Linked DNA regions of Homo sapiens: region 2 is linked to region 1. Evidence: fine-mapped expression QTL. Tissue or cell type: whole blood. Region 1 holds a variant in brackets; the other region holds the start of a gene. All regions are shown on one strand. Distances are between the middles of the regions.

The links. PIP is the estimated chance that this variant, and not a neighbour inherited with it, causes the effect.
Region 2: LINC01871 starts here. The variant in region 1 is fine-mapped to the expression of LINC01871 in whole blood (TOPMed, PIP above 0.99).

What each region holds. Positions count from the first base shown.
Region 1 is chr2:7,431,384-7,442,047 of GRCh38, reverse strand. The region is part of intron 4 of LOC100506274 (a long non-coding RNA gene); the gene reads right to left. Among named protein-coding and RNA genes, the nearest start is that of LINC01871, 290 kb to the left of the region's middle. RefSeq lists an enhancer at 10,495-10,664. The variant C/T (reference allele first, on the strand shown) is at 4,735.
Region 2 is chr2:7,721,525-7,732,188 of GRCh38, reverse strand. LINC01871 (long intergenic non-protein coding RNA 1871) reads right to left here and starts at 6,410. Exons shown (of 2, transcript NR_183384.1): 1 at 6,336-6,410; 2 at 1,468-1,673.

The DNA.
Region 1 (10,664 bases):
TTTATAAAACCATCAGATCTTGTGACACTTAATCACTACCATGAGAACAGTATGGGGGAAATTGCCCCCATGATTCAATTATCTCCACCTAGCACCACCCTTCCTACATGAGGATTATTACAATTCAAGGTGAGATTTGGGTGGGGACACAGCCAAACCATATCAAGCTTAGAGAATCAGACACTTGGCAAAGAATCTTTATAACCCTAGTAAGACCTACCATGCATTGAAAGCCAACTGTTGAAACAATGAGTAAAGTCCATTGCTTATATTACCTCTGCTCCTTATGTACTAGTGTATGAAATGGGTATCTCTACCTGTTTCTCAGGTAAGGGAGGAAGTTGGGGCTAAGATGGGTCAAATAGGTTGCACCTGGTTTTACACCTAATCAAGATCAGAGCTGGGAGGTAAACCCAGGTCTACTTTAAATACCATTTTCATTCCAGGAGGAAAGATATCCATTCACTTATTTATTTAATCATTCAGAGAGTATTTGGGATCCTACACTGAAGGGTGTTTTGTGATAAATTCAAAGTCAGAATTTCTTTCCAACACTCATTCTGCAGTTAAGATGGGACACAATGATCGAAAACAGGAGAACATGCTATATTTCCCCATGCTTCAGCCCTAGGCACAAAGGTCTTCTTATAGACAGAGCTCCACTGGCTCAAGTGACCCATGAACACAGGAAAAGGAATACAGTGCAGTGAGCTAATCCCAGACTGATCTTATATATCCATCCTATGTCTGAACCACTTAATTTTTTTACTCAAATAAATCAACAGAGTGCAGAGTCAGCCTTCTGTGGGCATCTCTAGAGTAATTAGAATAGGTTCTAAAGGCTCTCTTTGTCTAACTTGGTGTGGAGGCATTGCTGACACTTTACCGTGTGATAACGGGCAAGTGACAGCCACAGACTCATCAGTTCACACATCCCTCACCTGGTATTTCTAAAGCCGTTGTACTTTTTTCTCCTATTTTTTAAAGAAATGTTTTATCATAAGAAATTTGGCGTGTTCAGCTTTTAAAATTTTTTTCTTATGCATTTGTCCAGAATGAAATCCCTTGACACTATCACATTTGTCCCAGACACAGCTTTTGGACAAAATAGCCTTTACAGATCATTCAGAGGAATATTCATTGAGCAGTAAGTGAATTACAGTCAGTCGAAGCTTGCATAAATTACAGCTTCTGAGTGAAGGAAATAAGAAGAAATACATGATGAAAGCTGAGGCACATCAAGAAGCCCATCACCTAAGATTATTGTATCTCATGACATATTCCCCTAAACATGCTTCTCTTGGCTTCCCCTGTGCCATAACATGTATTCTATGAGAAAATGATAATAATTCTTGATTCCTCATGCTGACCTCCACATTTCACAGGTCAAGTAATGTTGAACATTTTAATTCCCAAAATTGCCTTCAATACATCCTTTCAATGCACTATCTCTCAACAGAGCAATTGAATTTTATTCTCCACCTACCCCAACATATGCACACACATTTGTCTCTATTGTCTTTGTGGTCAGCCCTTCACCGTTGTATTGGCAGAAGAATCTTCTACGTGACAAACTAATTGAATCACTGCCTTGGTCAAAGTCCTTTAGTAATTCCAAATTGATCAAAGCATAAAATCCCCAAAAGTGAAAAAATGTCCCCACATTCTGTTCAAATTGTCCTTCCATCCTTATTCCCAGAACGTTAATGTTTTAAAGAAACCAAGCTGCTCGCTCTTTCTAAAGCACATCCTGTCCTTTCACTGGGCTTATCCTGAACGGACCAAACAGAATGCTCTTCTTTCTCTTCCCCACCTGCCTGAATCTGGAACTTTTTTCTGTTTTCTCAGGTTGAGTTAGTTCTGCCCACCTTTGAGTATCAACACTTGACATATGCCAACCACGAATGGTCCTGACACCCTGATGGGAATGACTCTCCTGTTTGCTTCACTCACAAAAAATGAGCTCTTCCATTTAAAGGGCCATTTCACTTTCAGTTGTTATTGAAATATTTCATTAAAAATATTTTTGAATGAATGGATGGATGAATCTTGAAAAAGTTTGATTAAAATATGGTGCCAGCAGTCAGTAGCAGTTATGTTAGTTGGGGAGTGAGTCAGAGTATTGAAGGTCTCTTCCACACGGTCCCTACATAGTGGTCTTCCTGGCCTTGACCAAGCCTCCCATCATCAAGGGGAAATTCTGCCATTTCTTCATCATCATTTTCTTATCTGTAGGCCCTAGTGTCTAATGACATCGGATGAACCAGATGCTTAGTTTCTCCAGTAATGTTTTTGTCCTTTCTTGAACAAAAAGTTGTATAATGTTACTTAATCATATATGATTTTTTAAAAAATTGTATAATATTACTTAATCATACATGATTTTCTTAAAAATCATATAATGTTACTTAATATACATTCTTTGTGATGGGACAAAAATGGCAACTTTATTAGAGGAAGAGTTAATGTAAAAACCAACAATCTATTCTAGTTGCAATCCTCATTCAAAAATTCAAATCAGCTGATAAAATTGACATAAATTTTCAGATGTAAAACAAAGACATCTTCATCCTCTTAGTCTCCAGATAGATATCACTCGCCTGGAAAATTTTCTCTGACTCCTAGATTTGGGAGAAACTCACTGCTATGAATTGTCCCAGCACCCTGTTCTTACCATGCGACTCATAATAGCGGTAGCTATTTATTTCTTGTCATCCTTCCATACCTATCTAGGAACTCCTTGGGAGAGGGACAGGATCTTCCTAACCACTGTATTCCTCATGCCTAGTACAGTGATGGCACCCAGCAGAATTTCAGTAATAGGATTTAATGAAAGAACAAATGAATAGAGTTTGCTGGTAGAAAACAAGGCTAATTTTCAAACTTTCCCTGCTGACATGAAGAAGAAGGTATTTTCTTTAGCACCAACATGGTTTTTTTTAGCGCTCCCCAGCACTAAAGTGGAAATATGACAATGTACAGTTCACAGGAAGTAGATATTTCACACTATGATTAGTCTTTTTGGGTTGTTGACTGAACCAATCTTAGGACTTTAAAAGTCATAGGAATGCTGTAGCCCTATAACCATGAGTTCATGGCTGGCTGATTAGGCTCCTGAGACTAAAGCAACAGACACACAATCAAACCTCCTACTCTTGCTGCCTAAATTTTATTTATTATTTTTATTTATTTATTTATTTATTTATTTATTATTTTTTGAAACAGGGTCTTGCTCTGTCACCCAGGCTGGAGTGCAATGGTGTGATCTCGGCTCACTGCAACCTCTGCCTCCTGGGTTCAAACAAGTCTCCTGTTTTAGCCTCCTGAGTAGCTGGGATTAAAGGCGGCTGCCACCACGCCTGGCTAATTTTTGTATTTTTAGCAGACACGGGGTTTCACCATGTTGGCCAGGCTGGTATTGAACTCCTGACTTCAGGTGATCCACACACCTCACCCTCCCAAAGTGCTGGAATTACAGGTGTGAGAAAACATAAATGAAAACTGCAGTAAAGTAAACAAAGCAAAAGTGACAATAAGGAGTTGAAGGCAGCTGAGAGTTGAAAGTGTCCTGCAAAAGTCTCAAACTTTGCCGTTTTACTCAGAGAACTCTCTAGAGCCCTGGTCTAAGGTCCAGACAGACATGGTATTATCTGACTTTCTGTTCCCAAATCCCATCTGATTACGTTGCAGCCTCAGTTCTTTATCTGCTTCCCAGCCTATGTGGGTTTAGTGAATGACTGGCTCCCTGAAAACCCATCAGTCCAGATAGTGCCTTTCAGGGGAACCTCTTTCCTCCCAGGCTTGCACAGTGTATTTCAGCTGGGATGCCTCCTGATGACTCCCTCTGGCTGGTTCTGCTACATTCGCTCACTAACCTTTAGATACTCATTCATTATTAATGCAAAAGTGAGTGGTCATTGCCGAGTTGCAGTGGAAAGTCACACTTAACTTTCAATGCCATCTTCCTCTATTCCTGAAAGATGCTATTAGAATTAGGCAGGATGTTATAAGCTGAGAGAACAGCAAAGGAAAAGCATTTGCCTGCCTTCCAACCTCTCATAGCAATGATTAGAACACATTAAGGATTCTTTTCATTCTAGTAAGTATTTTTCTAGGTTTGCTCGAAGACCTAAATCAAGTTAGGGTAGGTTTTCGTAAGTGCCCGTGGTTTGGGCTGAAACCGAAAACTGATTCAAATGATGCAACTATTATGAAAGTTTTTCTGTAATAAAGTAATCATAAAATTGAAATTATGAAATGACTAGTGTTCACTGCCTTTCCATTTTCCAAGTAATTATCTGACGCTTCTGGGGTTTAGCAGATTTTTCTGCTAAATTTTTATTAAGATGAAAAAAGAAACATTTGTAAATAGCACCAAAGGTAGGATGTATTAAAAAGATACAGAGATGCTCAAAAGGCACTGAAATAAACTCTGTTTAATTTCTACTGGGGTCTTGCAAGCTTTTGGACACCCGAGTCAAATATTAAAACAACATTAGGGATTTTTTCTTAAGTTCAGAAACCCCCACCATCTAAGCAAAACATTTAAATTCTATTTTGGCCTTTGTTAGAGTTGGAGCATCATCAAACAGTACTTTTTCTAATCTGACATTTTAGAGGTTGGCAAATAATGACCATGAGCCACATTCAGCCCACTGTCTGTTTTTCTAAATACAGTTTTATTGGAGCACAACCACACCCATTTGTTTATGTCTTATCTGTGGGTGCTTTTCA[C/T]ACCTCAATGGCAGAGTTGAGTAGTTGCAACAGAGACCATATGGCCTGTGGAGCTGAAAATGTTTACTATCTGGCCCTTTACAGAAGAAGTTTGACAATGCCTGCTTTAAATAAAATATGCATTCTATTAGCTGGAGCTAGGCTTTTACAGATTATTAAAATATAACTAAATCCAATCCTTAACTTTCTGAGCTGCCATTACTCCCAAATATATTCCATTTGTGGCTGATAAAAACAATGTTTTTTTATTTTCTTTACCTCTCAAAAAATGCACTGAAGAAAACCTAACATATCAGAAGACCTGTCTATGGAAAAATAGGGGGAAAAGTCTCCTAAGAACAACCTCAGAGGGTTTTTAGAAGAGCAAACATTGCCCAATTTGTTCCCAACCAGTCCCATTTCTGTTGGTAAAATAAGCTCACAGCTTCAGTCATTACTCTTTGGGCCAGCAAGATCAAAGATGTGTTTATGTGAATGTGCCAGGGAAGGAGACAAAAAGCAGAGGTTCTCCACCATGGCTGCATATTGGAAGCACCTGGGAGATGAAGACAGTTCGAAAGCCAAGTCCCTCCCCAGGCCAATTAAATCAGAGTATGTGGAAATGTGGCCAGGGCAGCAGAATGTTTTCAAATTCCCCAGGTGGTTCTCCATTGCAAATAGAACTGAGAGTCGCTGGGTTCCAGTAAGGAAGGGTGCTATATGGAACAAGGACGTCACTTAAATTTGGGGGTTTTCCTTTCCACTGTAAAATGAGAGGGTTGAAATGAAGTTCTCTGAGGTCATTCCCGTCTGTGATTATAAGTGCAGTTCAATTGAATTAAGTTAATTTCCCCAAAAGAGGAAGCATGGAGCATTTTGACACCTTCTGTTATGAAGAAATATGTGGAATGGAAAGTGTTCAGAGCACGAATGGGTTCACTGCCGTGGGAACATGGGAAAGAAGGCTTGACGGTATTTCTGCTACTACTCTGTGGTTCAGTACTTCAGAAAGAAGAGAAGCCAGAACTTCTCTGGGACCTGTGTCAGACGCATGCTGTTACTCCTGCTGGCCTTTGCAGGCACCTCCAGTTCTGGTGGTTCACTTTTAGTTAACAGACAATAACCGAACACATGGTCTGAGGCTCACACTGTGCAGAGAGAGGGTGAAGCTTCTCAAGGGTGAATATTTTCTCTAGAGGAAAACAATGATGGGATAGATTCTGGTTCTGCTGCTTACCAGCTGTGAAAGATGGGATTTATTCATTCTCTCTAGACATCAGTTTTCTCATCTGCACAATAAGAGTAATAATCATCTCTCTATTCTGGTATCCTACAGAGGATTAAATAAAATAATGCATCAGAAGGCTTGGCAAAGTGTCCACCACAATGTAGGCTAAACAAAGAGTATATCATCATTACAATCATTTTCATTATTATTACTGTAATCATCATGATGTATTGGCAACACACAAGTGAATCAAAGGTACTGGCTACCAGTGATTTTCAATTTGTGGTTACAAATGACACCTAACAGGGCTGACTTTGTTAATATTTGAGGGGCTCTATAATAGTAAGATGGGAAGGTGTCTTTCTGTATAAAATACCTCAGACATTACGAGGGAGCCAGGCATGGTGGCTCCCGCCTGTAATCCCAGCACTTTGGGAGGCCAAGGCAGGTGGATCACTTGTGGTCAGGATCTTGAGACCAGCCTGGCCAACATGGTGAAATCCCATCTCCAAAAACACAAAAATTAGCCAGGCGTGCTGGTGCGTGCCTGTAGTCCAAGCTACTGGGGAGGCTGAGGCAGAAGAATCACTTGAACCCAGGAGGCGGAGGTTGCAGTGAGCTGACATCATGCCACTGCACTCTGGCCTGGGTAAAGGAGTAAACTCCATCTCAAAACAAAACAAAACAACAACAACAGCAACAACAAGGCTAGCAAAGGGCAGCATGTATGACAGGCAGGATGCACACTAACTCCCATTCCCTCCCCCACTGCAGAATGTACAGCATCGCATGTGCAGATGGTTATTACACAAGTGTGTGTCCATAAGCAATCTAGGGTGTATTTTGAATGCTTTTAAAGCTTCCTATGAATAGTAGCATATTAAATGGATACTGGTGAAACCTGGATTTTCACTCAACATTAAGTTTTTGAGATTTATCCATATCAACACACGCCATGCAAGCCCACAGGTTCTAACTGCTATATTCTATGTCACTTTACGATTTTGCCATGATTTATTTATCCTTTCTTATGTGGCTGAATATTTGAATCATTTCCATTATTCTGTATTACAAAAAAAGAAATGTTGCAGTGTCCATTTTACATGTTTCCTTGTGTACAAGTGTGGGAGTCTCTTAGTGCGTTTACTGAGGAGCTTTATCACACAGAATACGCCCATCTTTAAATTCTCAGTCTCCTTTCCGGGCTCATTGTTATCTCCTGGATTTTGTAAGTATCGGTGTGCCCCACAGCTCAGTTCTTGCATCTCTTCTCTTCTCCACCTGCATTTAGGTAATACCACCTGGTTCCATGTCTTTAAATACCACCCAGGATTACTATCTCCAGTCTGGACATACTTCCTGAAGTCTGGGTTCATACATCAACTTGCTTACTTAGTATCTTTGTAGATATCTAAAGGGACATATGACGGACATTGTAAATGCTCGCCAATGGGGTTTCTCTTCCAGGCACACAGACTGCATTTCTCATCGCACTTTCACCAACATGGGAGAATGTGACTACTTCTTGTTGAAAAAAAATAAGAATGTACCACTTGTCTTTGGTTCCCTGGGAAATCGAGTCACAGATTTGGTATGGGAGGTTATTGGGCCAGCCCTTCAGGAATTCACCTGTATGGGAGTTAGAGGTGGAGATCTGGGCAGAGGGAAGACTTGAACTGAACTGTGATTCATTTCCAGCAGAGCCTTAGCTGATCCCGCAAGGGCCCTGGAGGTGAAATCGCATCTCAGAATTGTTCCAGATGGAGGCATGAGCTGTGTCTTTTTCCTCCCATGTCAGCCATCATTAGAAGTGGGCAGCTTCTAGGGAGAGGACATTTCCTTGTGCTAGATGGCTTTCTTTATCTGAGAAATTTATGGGGAGGGATGTCCCGGGGAGCCACCCGACACTTCAACAACAGGGATAATAAATACCTCAGACCTCAGGGGGAGTGATGAGCAACACACCCCCACATCCACTGCACACTCCTAAGCTGAGGTGGTAAAAAAGAGCCTGCTCAGTTTTCAATCTTGTACTTCATTCAGCAATGAGTGTGAAGACCATGAATGGCCCCCATCTCAAATCCTTCAAGGAGCTACAAGGGCTTAAGTCATCTGAACCTGTATCACTTCTCCAACCTCACCTTGAACCATTCATACTTATCGTTCTCCAGTATAGAATGACCCCCCACTCCACTCAGCTATTCACTAATTCCCTCACTTCTTTCAAGGCACTGCTCAGATGTCATCTCATTGTTATGAGCCCTTCTCTGATCACCATCTATTTCAAAAAATATATGTGAATAAATTTATTTTTTAAATTATTTTCCAGAGCATTCATGTCATCATAAGACACATTACAAATTTATTTTTAAACAAATAAAAGACTAGCCCCATCTAAGCATAACTGTCTGCACTTCTCACCTACTGCAACTGGAATAGCCACTGCATTCAATAAATGTTTGTTGAATAAATGAATTGAATATAGTAGGCATTAGTGTTAATGGTTTGGGGATTCTTTTGAATTTTCTATTAAAATATGTTATTTGCATATAATAGCAATTTTATCTATTACTTAAATGTTTAAAGTTTTCATTTCTTTCTTTTTTTTTCTTTTCATATTGCAATGGCTAGGACCATTCTTGAGGATTGTTTTTACCACAAAAAAAGAGATAAATTTTATCAAGTTATTTTTCTGCATGAATGGAAATGGTGATGCAACTAATAATTAATGGAGTTTCTGATGTCTAACCATACTTAGGTCTCTGTGATAACCTTCCTAATCTTTGAAATCTATGTCAAAATGCAGAGCTCAAGAGATATAGACCACAGATTCTGATGGCAATAAGACCTTCTGATCACAGAGAGAGCTGTTTTTCTATGAGAGACTATTCCACGGACAGAGGTGGCGCTTTTGAAGCATAACCAGGCAAAGTCAATGCCTTCAGGAGCCAGACAGATGCTGTGAATCAGGGAAACAGACTGAGGGTGGAGATGGGCACACGGGAGATGCCACCTTCATACATGGTGCTCAGAGGAAAATCAGTACCGACTGTTGCCATGTGAAAATGAAGGCCCAGTGTGGCCAGGTCATCTGATATTTGTCTAGACAGACTAGAAATCTGGATATTTAAAACGTAAAATATTCTACTTTTTAAGTACCTTTTAATAAATTCAAATTTATACAAGAAGACATCATGTGGTCCAAAAAAACTCATCTCTAGGCCAAGGAAGAATTAAGAGTTTGAGACTTCCAGTGTACAAGAATGAGTTTATGTCCTTCTCTGATTTTAACAGGCATTTTAACTCTTTTATCTAGATTTCTTCACTTCTGAATTATGGCTAACAGTAATTGTCTCACTGAGTTGTGGTTTGTAAATAAGTATCATAAGCATTAAAGCAATGTTGAAAAGAAGGAAGTTCACTATGACTCCCAACCGGTGAAGGCATCACACTGGAGGAGAGAGGAGAGAGGGAAGCTGGAGCTCATGTCCATCACGCCTTGAAGAAATCCACTCTGAGAGCAGCCCATGAGCCACATCAATACAAGTAGCCATAATAAGTAACGGGAGCTGTTATATACATTTTTGTTTTCTACTGTCCAGTACACCCAAAATCTAATGTTTATCATTTAAAAAAATGGTGAAGTTAAGAACTCTCCTTGTGGGTGGCCGCGTGGGTGAAGTCACATGTGTGACAGGGATGATCCTACTGCAGGTGGCAGTGTGGGTGCTCAGGATATTTCCGGATGCCACTTTTCCATCTCCTTTATCCCTTGTGTCTGCAAGGCGGGCCCTTTACGGATCACCAAGAGGAAAGATGCTAGAGTCCAGTCCTAAAGGAGATTCCAGTCCCAGGAAAGCCATCAGACACATAGAGAGGACACCTACACAAGGCAGTGTGGGGGTGGGGGCGGGGGGCTGCGGGGCATCTAGCCATGGTAGCCATGGCCCTGCCAGCACTCAGCCTCTGTGCCCTGGTCCCCAGCATATAAAATGACGATTGTACAATTCCAGTGTTGAGGGACTGTACCAACCCCGATGAGATTAATGCATGTGACAGGTTTTAGCACCTGGAACTTAGTGAAGCCTCAATTACTATGTATCTTTGGTATTCTTATTAAAGACAAGCAAAATACCACGGTGAAATAACACGGTGCTCCAAAGAGAAGACGTTTGGAATGCCTGCGGGGATGGACGGCCAGGCCATATGAAAGAGGACTTCACAGATGGAGAGGGTTTCCACAGGCAGTGACGCTCATGGTACAAAGCAGAAGATTCTCCCAAAATAAAGACCAGGGTGAACAAAAGCACTCAACTGGGAATAAACTGTGATGAACAAGTTGAAGCCGGGTTATTCCAAAAATCATCTGGCTGTGGCCAGGATCAGGACTCCACCACCACCCCCGGCCCCCGCCCCCACCCAGTGTGTCCAGGTTCTGTGGTCACCGTCATAGAGCCAAGGGCATTTCTCTAGTGCATACAGAAGCCTGGTTCCAGCACCCTGCGTCAGGACCACATTCCTGGGCGGAGACTCGGGCAGACCTGTGGGCTGGGACTAGGAGTGGTGGGCCCTGAGGGCCTGGAGAAACACCAAAGCGAGCTGAGTGCGCGCGCGGAGTGCACACCTGCGGTGACGCCCGGCCGGCCTGGCCTCACCTGCCCGGAAGGCTCTGCGGGCGGAGAGGGCGCATCTGCGCGGCCCCACGGAGCCCGGCTCTGCGCGC
Region 2 (10,664 bases), 290 kb before region 1:
TCTTAATGCTTAGAACAGTCTGGGACATTTTAGATAAAAAACAAATGTTGAATGAAGAATAGTCTGAGGCAGTGGAAAAGATCTAATTGATTAATAAGAACAGGAAATGATAGTTAATTGACAGGGGAACATTAGTTGGAAGACAAACATTAGTTGGAAGACAAACCCCCACTCTTAAAATCCATCTAGGAGAGCAGACTGTAGATTGAACGGATGTTTTGAATTAAAAGAATGTCACCGTCTTTGCTGATTTGCCACATTTATAAAAAGGGGGTAAGGCAATTTCTAAATAAATAAACTCAATCTTTTGAAAGGCTAATTCCATCAAGCTACGGTGGTGAATATTGTCCCACTTCAACTTTGTATTATTGCTGTTCAAACAGTAGACATCTCTCCCTGACTCTCCCAACACCTGGGACCCCCAAGAGATGTCCTGCACAAAGCTTACTGTTTACGAGATCTCTTTGTGTTATGTTCCATTTAGACTGCTGACCACTTTTTCATTCATTCCTCGATTAGCATCATGTTAAATTTGTGAAATTCTATTTCTATTTATCATATTGCTCTCAAAAGGCTAAGCCTGAATGCTGGTGTACATTTTCTTGCTAATGTACATTTTTCTCATTTCTGTGTTTCTTTATTTTTAGTAGATTTGGAATACACAAAAGTCCCCCTGATTAAGCTTTTAGAATCACCATTGTCTCATTAGTAGTGCATGTATACATGATTATTCCATTGAAAACAATCAGGAAACTGGATACAATGTCCTTCCAGCTGCTACCTGAGAGGTCTTAATATTCAGTGTGTAATTGAGAACGACAACCACCACAATAATAGTAATACATGGCTTGTATAATTTTCTACTTTTTAAGAAGATTAAATATAATAGCATATGCTAAAGTACTGAGTAAAGTAGACAGTTCTATGTAACTATTATCCATACTTGTTTTCATTAGCTGAACTCTTGATAAATGTCAAAAATCTACTTTTCGCTGACACTGTTAAAATCCAATTTTCAGAACATTTCACTTTACAAAATAACTTCACAACTTTGATCCTCCGTATTCATAACAGTGATCTTGCCAGGTGGTTGTTATTACCAATTCCAGAAAGATAAACGAAACTACAGACAGCCCAAGTGGTTTGCATCAGGTGGCATAGCTAGTGGATGTCAGAGCTGTCCATGAAGTTAGACCCATCCACCTTTACAACACATGCTACTCCCTGAAGCCACATTCTTTTACATACGGGAGACATTCCTGAAGCAGAGAAATAGCACTTAGTTCTTTTCTGAAATGCTTTGCCCTCCCTTGAAAGGAGGGGCATAGTCCAGTTGTCCAAGTAGCTAGAGAATTAAGTAGAAATGATACTTTTGTTCTTTTTAAACGTTTCTGGCTTAGTTTTGATGTACCAGATACTGAGTAACAATAATATTTTTTTTCCTAGAAATAATAACTGCAAACATCATAGCAAGGCACCAGCATTTCTGCATCTCATTTAATTAGAAATGGAGAGACTGAAAGTAAAACTGGTAAGTCATATATGCAAGAGAGACAGATCGTCCACGGCAGCGCTGCATGCTGAACCCAGGCAGCTGACTCCAGAGCTCTGTTGCTCAGCTTCGGCCTTTGGTAGTGTGACTCCAGCTTTTCTTGTTTCTCTTTGGTCCAGACCTGACCACAGGAAAATAAATCCATAGCCAGTTTGAGATGTTAGATCACAGTTACTTTTGCATTTTCCAAATGTATTGAGAATGCCTACAACATGTCATATAGCAGTAACATTGTTTTGGTTACACAGATACTTCAGGGAGAACAATGCAATTTCGCTAAGTTTTCCACTGAAAGCAGTCACCTCTGTGTGGAGAAAATTCAGGAATCCCAAACCCAGGAATGATGTCTTGGTGGAAAACTGAAATGTTTGGAACTGGAAATTCAGAGTGGAAATGCCCTCCTAAATGAAGAGAGGCTGCTGTTACAATGGCATTAATTATTTAAAAACAAGCAACAGAAAATAAAAATGTCTCAGGAAAATTGCATTCATACATGACAGAGGAATGGTGCTGCCTTCTCATATGAAGTAGTCAGCAAGGGTTTGCATGTCAGTGAGAGTTTGCATGCTGGGAATAAGGCCACCACTAGATCTCAGGTCAGCCGAATGCCACAGCCAGTTTTATGCATTGTTCACTCCCATCTGAACAAATGCTTAGGGAAGGGGTGGGACAAAACTGGGCTTTTCAAGCAGACTGCTTTGGTTTGGAATTCTGTCTCTAGCGCTTGCTAACTATGGACCTAGGGGAGTTCCTTAACTTTAGTAAACCTCAACTTTCTCATCCTTTTAATTGGGATTAAATAACAGCCATGCCGCATGTTACACAGACACTTCCCACAACGTTTTGCTGCTTCTGTTTCCATGCTAAGCCCGCTGCACTGAGAGCTACTTGAGAAAAGTATCCAGGGTGTTGTTTCCTCCCTATTTTCCTAGTGCTTAGTGCATGGTAGGCATTTAATACAAGGTTGATACACGGGAATCATCTATCTTCTGCTTGGGGGACACAAATTCTAAAGGTCGGGTTGAATTTAATGGTAGAAAGGGAAGACAGGAAAACAGTGGCAAATGTTTGGATCCATGCAAAGTTAGCACACTCATTTCTGGCTTTAATTTATTTAAATGGGCCCTGAAATCATAGATGCTTTTCCATCTAATTTAGAGATACTGAAGGACATTCATTGAGCGAACAGTAAAACTCGCCTTCAGTGGGTCCGTGACTGTTAATACCAATCCTATGTAGTTAATGTTGTATTCTCCAAAATTGTATTTTCCATAGAGTAATTATGAGTCAGGCAAAAAGAAAAACTGTAAATTAATCAGGGTTTACACAGTAAACAATGCACCTAAAAAGAGTCTTAATGAGCGAAGCATTGTCCAAAGCAGCCTGCTTTTAAATATACATTTCTGAGTAGATATGACTTATGATGACTGCTCCTTTCTTAATTTCATTCAATTTGTTGGATGGGTGATAGGAGCACGCATATGAATGTACTGATATATCTTATAGGGCTGTATTCCGGCAGTGCCCTGGATTCGTATAATGTGCCTTTTCCCAGAAACAGAAGCATCTTTTCCTCTGTCAGGTTCTTTACCAATGGGGGCTCGGCTGGAAGGGCTTCATCCTTGAGGACACTGCTGCTCTCCTTCCCTATGGAGGATCACACAGTGTCCACGCACACATGAGCCACTGCCGTTAACTTTGACGAGAACCGCGTGCGGTTTGGGGGTGATTTAGCCTTTAAACAATTCCACTCTGGGTCCCTAAGAGTTTAGCTCTGCTTCCCTGATGTGCAGTTTCCTGAATTCAGGCCAGGAGGGCATCACCCATTTCTCAGTCATACACCAAATCGGGCTAACCATTTGACTACATGGTACACTTTAATGAAGTTTTCCCAAGTGCAAAAGGAATGTGCAATGGCCGCCCTTTTCCAGGCACTTTCATACATGACATCCGTACATGCATGAATGCACTGCGCCGAGAATCTGTTGGTTCTTTTGCATGTGTTGTCTCCAGTCCTCACCAGGCCCTTATGCAGTGGCTACTGTCATTATTGTGAAGAGGGCAAGCCCCAGATTGACTATCTAGAGGCATATCGCACTGCTGCCGTTTCCTCTGTCTGTGCCTTTCGGCAAGTCAATCCTTCCAAGCCTCAGTTTCCTTATCTGTAAAATGGAAAGTCTACTTCTTAGGTTGTTATCGGGATTGCCACCCCTAACATATTGTTGGCCAAGTGGGAAAAGCTCAATAAACACTGTCATTAATCTCATTGTGAATTAGACTGGGTTCAAAAAGGTTAAAACCAACAATAATAATTGCATCCCTTTCCCTATAGCTTTCATGTCTCTCCTAGACAAAGAATAAAGTTTTGTAAGTTTTCAGTCTTAAGCATAGAACTCATTTCTCCCGAGACTTCATTTTCATGGTAGGGTAGTACAGATTGAATATCCCTTATCAAAAGTGCTTGGGGCCAGAAGTGTTTTGGATTTTGAATTCTGTCAGATTTTGAAATATTTGCATTATGCTTACCCATCGAGCATCCCAAATCCAAAAATTTGAAACTTGAAATGCTCCAATAAGCATTCTCTTTGAGTGTCATGTAACTGCTCAAAAAATTCTGGATTTATGAACACTTCAGATTTTGGATTTTGGGGTTGTAATGCTTAATCCATAGTAGATAAAGGCACTTTGTCAGCTCCATCAGAGCAAGCTTCCTCAGAAGCACTACCTGGTGATCACTCTCATTCCTTCCCAAAGTTTCATTTCTCTCTCTCTCTCTCTGTCTCTGGAGACAGTGTCTTGCTCTGTCCCCCAGGCTGGAGTGCAGTGGCATGATCACAACTCACTATAGCCTCAACTTCTTGGGCTCAAGTGATCCTTTCTCTTCAGTCTCCTGTGTAGCTGGGACTATGGATGTGCACCACCATGCCTGGCTAATTTTTTTAAATTTTTATTTTAGCAGAGATAGGGGGTCACTATGATGTCCAGGCTGGTCCTGAACTCCTGGCCTCAAGCAATTCTCCCACCTTGGCCTCCCAAAGTTCCTGGATTACAAGTGTGAGCCCACCGTGCCTGGCCTTAAAGTTCAATCTTAACATGGGCCCTGGCCCTGTTCTACTTCTAAAGATCTCTTTTGAATTCTCAACCCCACCTTTATCATGGGCTTCTGTTCTGTCCTTCAGAAAAGCCCGCCAGAACCAAAGATGGAAGTTACTGAAGATGGTGAAGCTAGGGAACCCCAATAAGAGCTCCCATCTTATTTCTCATTGCTTGCTTACAAGCACACTATTCTCTAGCTTCTGACCTATGAAAAGTGCTTGGCACACATTTGTGCAACAAAACTGACTGTGCTAGCTCCAGGTGCAAAACTGCCCAGCAACCACTAGACACAGTTCCTGCCCCACTGTGCTCACCCCACCTGAACTAACCAAATTATTCTGGCATAACCATGTTAGAAAAGGACTCTTGGGGACTGCTACGGGACAGCCAAGGTGGCTCAGGGGTGCTAGACAATGTGCATCTCAACATGCTTCACAAATGATTGCTTATGTTTAATAGTACATGCTCACGTGCATGCTATAATGGCTATCATTTTACACATCGTAGCTCACTCTGCACAAATAACTCTAAGAGATTTTTCCTCTTGTTTCAGAGACATAGAGAGATTAAGGAACATGCCCAAGTGCAATATGGTTAGGGAGTGGTGAAGCTAGGCTGCAAATCTGGCTCTTTTTGGCCCTGCACTTTAGGCTTTAATTCTGCCAAGCCAAAATGCCAACACAAACTGTCACACTCCATCTACCATCTTTTTTTTTTTTTTTTTTTCTGAGACAGAGTCTCGCTCTGTCCTCCAGGCTGGAGTGTGATCTTGGCTCAGTGTAACCTCTGCCTCCCGGGTTCAAGCAATTCTCCTGCCTCAGCCTCCCGAGTAGCTGGGATTACAGGTGCCCACCACCATGCCTGGCTAACTTTTATATTTTTAGTAGAGACAGGGTTTCACCATGTTGGTCAGGCTGGTCTCGAACTCCTGACCTCGGGTGATCCACCCACTTCGGCCTCCAAAGTGCTGGGATTACAGGCATCAGCCACTGTTCTTGGCCCCATTTATCACCTTAGCTCTGAGACCGGCCTCCAAGAGGGGTTCCCTGTGGAGTAAGATGTGCACATTCTACTTATTCTCTCTTCTAGGTCAAGTGAGAAAATGTACTTGAAATCACTTTGTAAGCTATAAGGTACTCTATAGAGAGTACCTTATATATATACATGTATAAATGTACACATATCTATACACATAAGTACAACTATATTGCTCACAATTCACAAGAAATGTGTGATTCATGTTAAATATTCAACATGTCGAATGTATTGGGGTTGTCTATCTTGATATAGATACTTGTTCACAAGCTATTAGTATGCCCTATTGACATTTCATACAAATAAACACAATACACACACACACACACACACACACCCATGTTGCTCTTCCCTCTTGGGAATGTTTGCTCAAGAGGCTGAGGCTGAAGTTGGCCTCCTGCTATGTCTGAGAGCAGCCCTTGCATAGGTGTGAGTGTGCACAGGAATTTATTTTCTAACCAAGGGAGAAATTGACAAAGTGAATAGAAAAACCACAAAAGCAGCTAAGTTAGATTTGGGTTCAAAAAAAGAATGCAGACAGAAAAGGAAGACTGTGAGGGGAGAGTTGATAGGTGGTTTAAGGAATGTCTGGCGAGAGGCAAGGAATAGAGTAAAGAAGAGAAAAAGTAATAAAAATAACTGCAACACTCACCTCTGAGAACAAATGACTGTAGTTGCTGCATGCTTAACGTCCCCATCTTATGAAGCACCACACATCAGCAGAAATGAGATACACAGCAGGGAGGTGTTAGAAATCTGGTTTTGCAGATGATTTTGTCAAATCACCTACAGCTTTGCTCAAACCAGTTCCAAAGGCTTTAACCACATGGTTTGCTTGTGTGCACCTATTTCCTGAGTTGCTCTAAATTGCATGACTTGGGGTGTAATGGCAATTCTTTGGGTTTTTGTGGCTCCATTTCTATGAGACACATGATTAGAAATCCTGTTTGCTTTTTGCTTGTCAAGCCTTAATCAGCTACCACGCTGGGCTTGTGTGAGGGCCCTGATAATCAGCCTGCTTTATGGAGAAGGCAGAGTGGAAACAGGACAGGAGACTTCCCATGGCACGGATACAGAAACGCAGCTTTCTTCGGGTTCTCCTTAAACTCGGAAAGTATCTCTTGTCTGAAAAATTTAAGTCACAATCTCTAATTAATTAGCTAACTAGCTCCCCCTCTTGAAACGTCTTTCAGATAAAAACTGCATAATGCTGCAAAGCAATGGCCTAAAATCAGACTAATCTACGTCTACGGCAGTCCTTAGGATCCATTGTGTCAGAAAAATACATAGAAATGTCTTAAAATCTGCCCAAACACAAAAACTGTAACTGTGCTATTACTTTCGTTGGGTTTATACCTTTCAAATCATCTTTTTTCCTTAAAGGTATTTTGACACAGCTTAAAAAAGAAAGGCACCAAAAGCCTTAGCCTGTACAGCGAGCTATAAAATTGCTGCGAGCTTAAACAGTCAAGGTAGGAAAAATGGCAAAAGTTATGTCCCCAACAAATAAGCTTGTGCTTTTGTCATAAATGAAGACTCTTAAAATGTGATGCCACCCCATGACTTATTTTGTATTATCTTATTTTTGTTTTGCTCCAGTCATTCTCTCCCTTTATCTTACATCAAAAACAAGAAAAGTTTTGCCTATGTCTACAACTTAAGTGAGGAACCTATTATGTGATTATGATATAAAATTCAGAGCCAGTGATAGGCCGTCGTGTGGTGTAAACATTTCAGAGGATAAGAATAATAGCAAAGAACTAAATTGAAATGTAATCCGTGCTGAGATACTGTAACAAAGTCTCGTAATCTCTTTAAGCCAGCTGTTCTCAACTTTGGCTGCCTATTTGAATCTTGCAGAGATCTTAAATCCTTCTTGATGCCTGGGTCTCACCCTCCAGGGATTCCGATTTCATTTGTCTAGGTTGTGACCTAGTGTCATGGGTTTTAACAGCTCCCCAGGTGATTCAAATATGTGGCCACGATTGAGAGCCCTCTTGTCAGCTGACTGTACTGTATACACGGATCTCTGACAGTAAAGGTCATCACCTGGTTCCCTGATTTGTTCTGGTCTTATTTGTGTGCCAATGGCTCTTTCTTGGACTTCAGAGTTTTATCTGCACAGATGATTCTGATACTGCTTCTGGGACTGCTGACCCAGTGTGGGCACTTGGTCATGACAGCTTTTTGACCCTATGCTGGTCTACAGGTGGCTAGGGCCCCTGTAACAAAGTATGAAGACTGGGTGGCTAAACAGTAGAAATGTATTGTCTCATAGTTCTGGAGGCTGGAAGCCCGAGATCGAAATGTCTGCGGAGTTGGTTCCCTCTGTGGCCTCTCTCTTGCTTGCAGGCAGTTCCTTTGCCCTGTTTCCCTACATGGTCTTCCCCCTGGCGTGTCTGTGTTCTAATCTCCTTTTATAAACACACAGGTGAGATTGGATTAGGCCCACCCATATGACCAAATTTTAATTCAGCAACCTCTTTGAAGGCCCTGTCTCCACAGGCACATTTTGAGATATTGGATGTTAGGGTTTCAACATATGAACGTGGGGGTACAGAATTCAGCCCTTAACAGCCAAGAGGATGTCTGCACTAGCAACATGCATGCCTTTGTCATAGCTCTGCTCCAACTATGAGTTGGGAAAATGTCAGAGATAATCGGAGTGCACAAACTATTCTCAACCATCTTCCTGGGCTTGCTTTATCAGTCAAAGTAGCAGCCACTGGGGTATCCATTCCCAGGCAAACTCTCCTGTATGGCTGAATCAGCCAGCAGGCTTAACCTGTGGAATGGCCTGGAAAACTCACCTTCCATCTCAAGGATTCTGTAAAATGTCTGGGTGCCCTTTTCCAGGGCTTCGGGAAGTGGGAAGCCCCAACCCCACCGCTCCCAGCAGGTGCAGCAGGAGCTCTTTTCCTCAGCTGCTGGTGTTTCAAGGTGGCTCAAACACCTGACCACCCAGCTGATCTCAGTGACACTGTGTGCCATCAGAGGCTACAGGTCTGTTGGAAAGAACATGTTGATTCCTCCTATTAGTAGGAGATTAGTTCTTACATTTGGTGGTTCAATCTCTGGACTTTTAGTTTCTTCTTGGTTTTCCCTAAGTTTGACTCTCAAAATCTCCTTGGTTTGGACTTATTCTTCCAGTTGGATACACTTCCACGTTCATTCCTGTAAAGGAAGATGTAGTTAGATTCATTTGCAAACAGAGCTTCTCTAACTCCTTCTGCACTCTCAGGTTCTTCACCCATTTCACCTTCACCCCTTGCCAAACTGGCTTAGCCTAGCTTAGCGCTTGGATTGTTTAGCATTGTATTGGGTTCCAGGTATTTCTGGAAGTGTCGATTGAGTCCTCTAATTAGTCAGTGCTTCAGAATGTCTATGATTTTTCAAGTCCTCTTTTTTGGCTTCACACTGTTAAAAATTACACTTAGTATCAAGGTTAAAATACAGATGATAGTAGTGCATTTTTTGAGTTCCCTGAGAGCATGTAGCATGTAGCTGTCAGTTTCCGGCATCTAGTGCATGCCATAGTCCTCGCTTCTAGGGGTCGCTTTCCAAAGTTTCAGTTACCCTTGGTTAACTGTGGTCTAAAATAGTCCATGGAAAATTTCAGAAATAAACAATTCAGAAATTTACATTGCTCGCTGTCCTGCGTCATGTGAGTGAAATCTCACCTGGGAAGTGAATCAGCCTCTGTCCAGCGGATCCACGCTATCCATGCTCCCCACTCATGACTCACTGAGCAGCAACCTCAGAGATCAGATCGACTATGGTGGTGCCACCATGCTTGTGTTCAGATCACCCTGATTTTACTGCATAATGGTCCTGGAGCGCAAGAGTAGTAATGCTGGCAACGTCGATGTACTAAACAGAAGCCATAGAGTGCTGCCTTTAAGTGAAAAGAGGAAAGTTCTCGGCTTCAGGAAAGAAAAAAAATTGTGTGCTGAGGCTGCTAAGATTCAGTCTTCTACTCAAGAAATTGTGAAGAAAAAAAGAAATTCATGCTAGTTTTGCTGTCACACCTCAAACTGCAAAAGTTACAGCTGCGGTGCGTGTTAAGTGCTTAGTTAAAATGAAAAAGGCTCTACATTTGTGGATAGAAGACATGAACCGAAACATGTTCCACTTGATGGCAATAGGGTCAGTACTGCCTGTGGTTTCAGCCACCTACAGGGTGTCTTAGAATGTATCCCCTGTAATTAAGGAAAGACTACTGTACTAATTAAAAACCCAGTGATTCGAATTGAGACAGACTTATTGAATTAAACCTATCATTTTCTGTCAAAACTGATAGGGACCCAAGACTATTTACACTTGGAGGTGGATAAAATCCAGAGAAGAGACGTGAGTGGTCTGAGGCCATACAGTGAGCTAAGGTCAGAGCCAGGATTAGCTCTATGTTGATTAATGTGTCCCATGCTTCCAACTCATGAGCATTTTGCCTTAGGAAGATGGCAAAACTGGATAGTATTTCATGGCCTTGAGTTTAGCATACTTCTATGTAGCACTTAATTTTTGAAAATAAAGAGTCGTATGGATGTTTGAATTTTTAAACACGCAGTCCTTCAGAGGAAACCATGCAGCTTGCAGACTGTGGGGAGAAGATGGTCTGTAATAAAAGAGCTGGCCTGAGCCTCCCGATGGCCAGCTCCTCTCAACTCGTAACAACCATCTGGATTGTCTGTGTGGAGACCAGATTGCCTGTTATGTCCACCAAATGAGTTGCCTTGCCCTAGAAAAACAAAATTCAAACATCTATCAAAGAAACCTGTCATCTCCCTGTCTTCCTCTGCAGAAATCAGCTTCCTTCTCACTTCCACTGGAGGCCCAGTAAGAGAGTTCATCTCTGCAAATCCGTAGGGTGACAGCTGCCAGGGGGGACTTCTGGACCAGAATCTGACGGGTAAGAGAAGACTCCCGATGAGAAAGTCAAAAGGAGGCGTTCAGCGTGGGTTTTCTCTGGCACTGTTGTCAG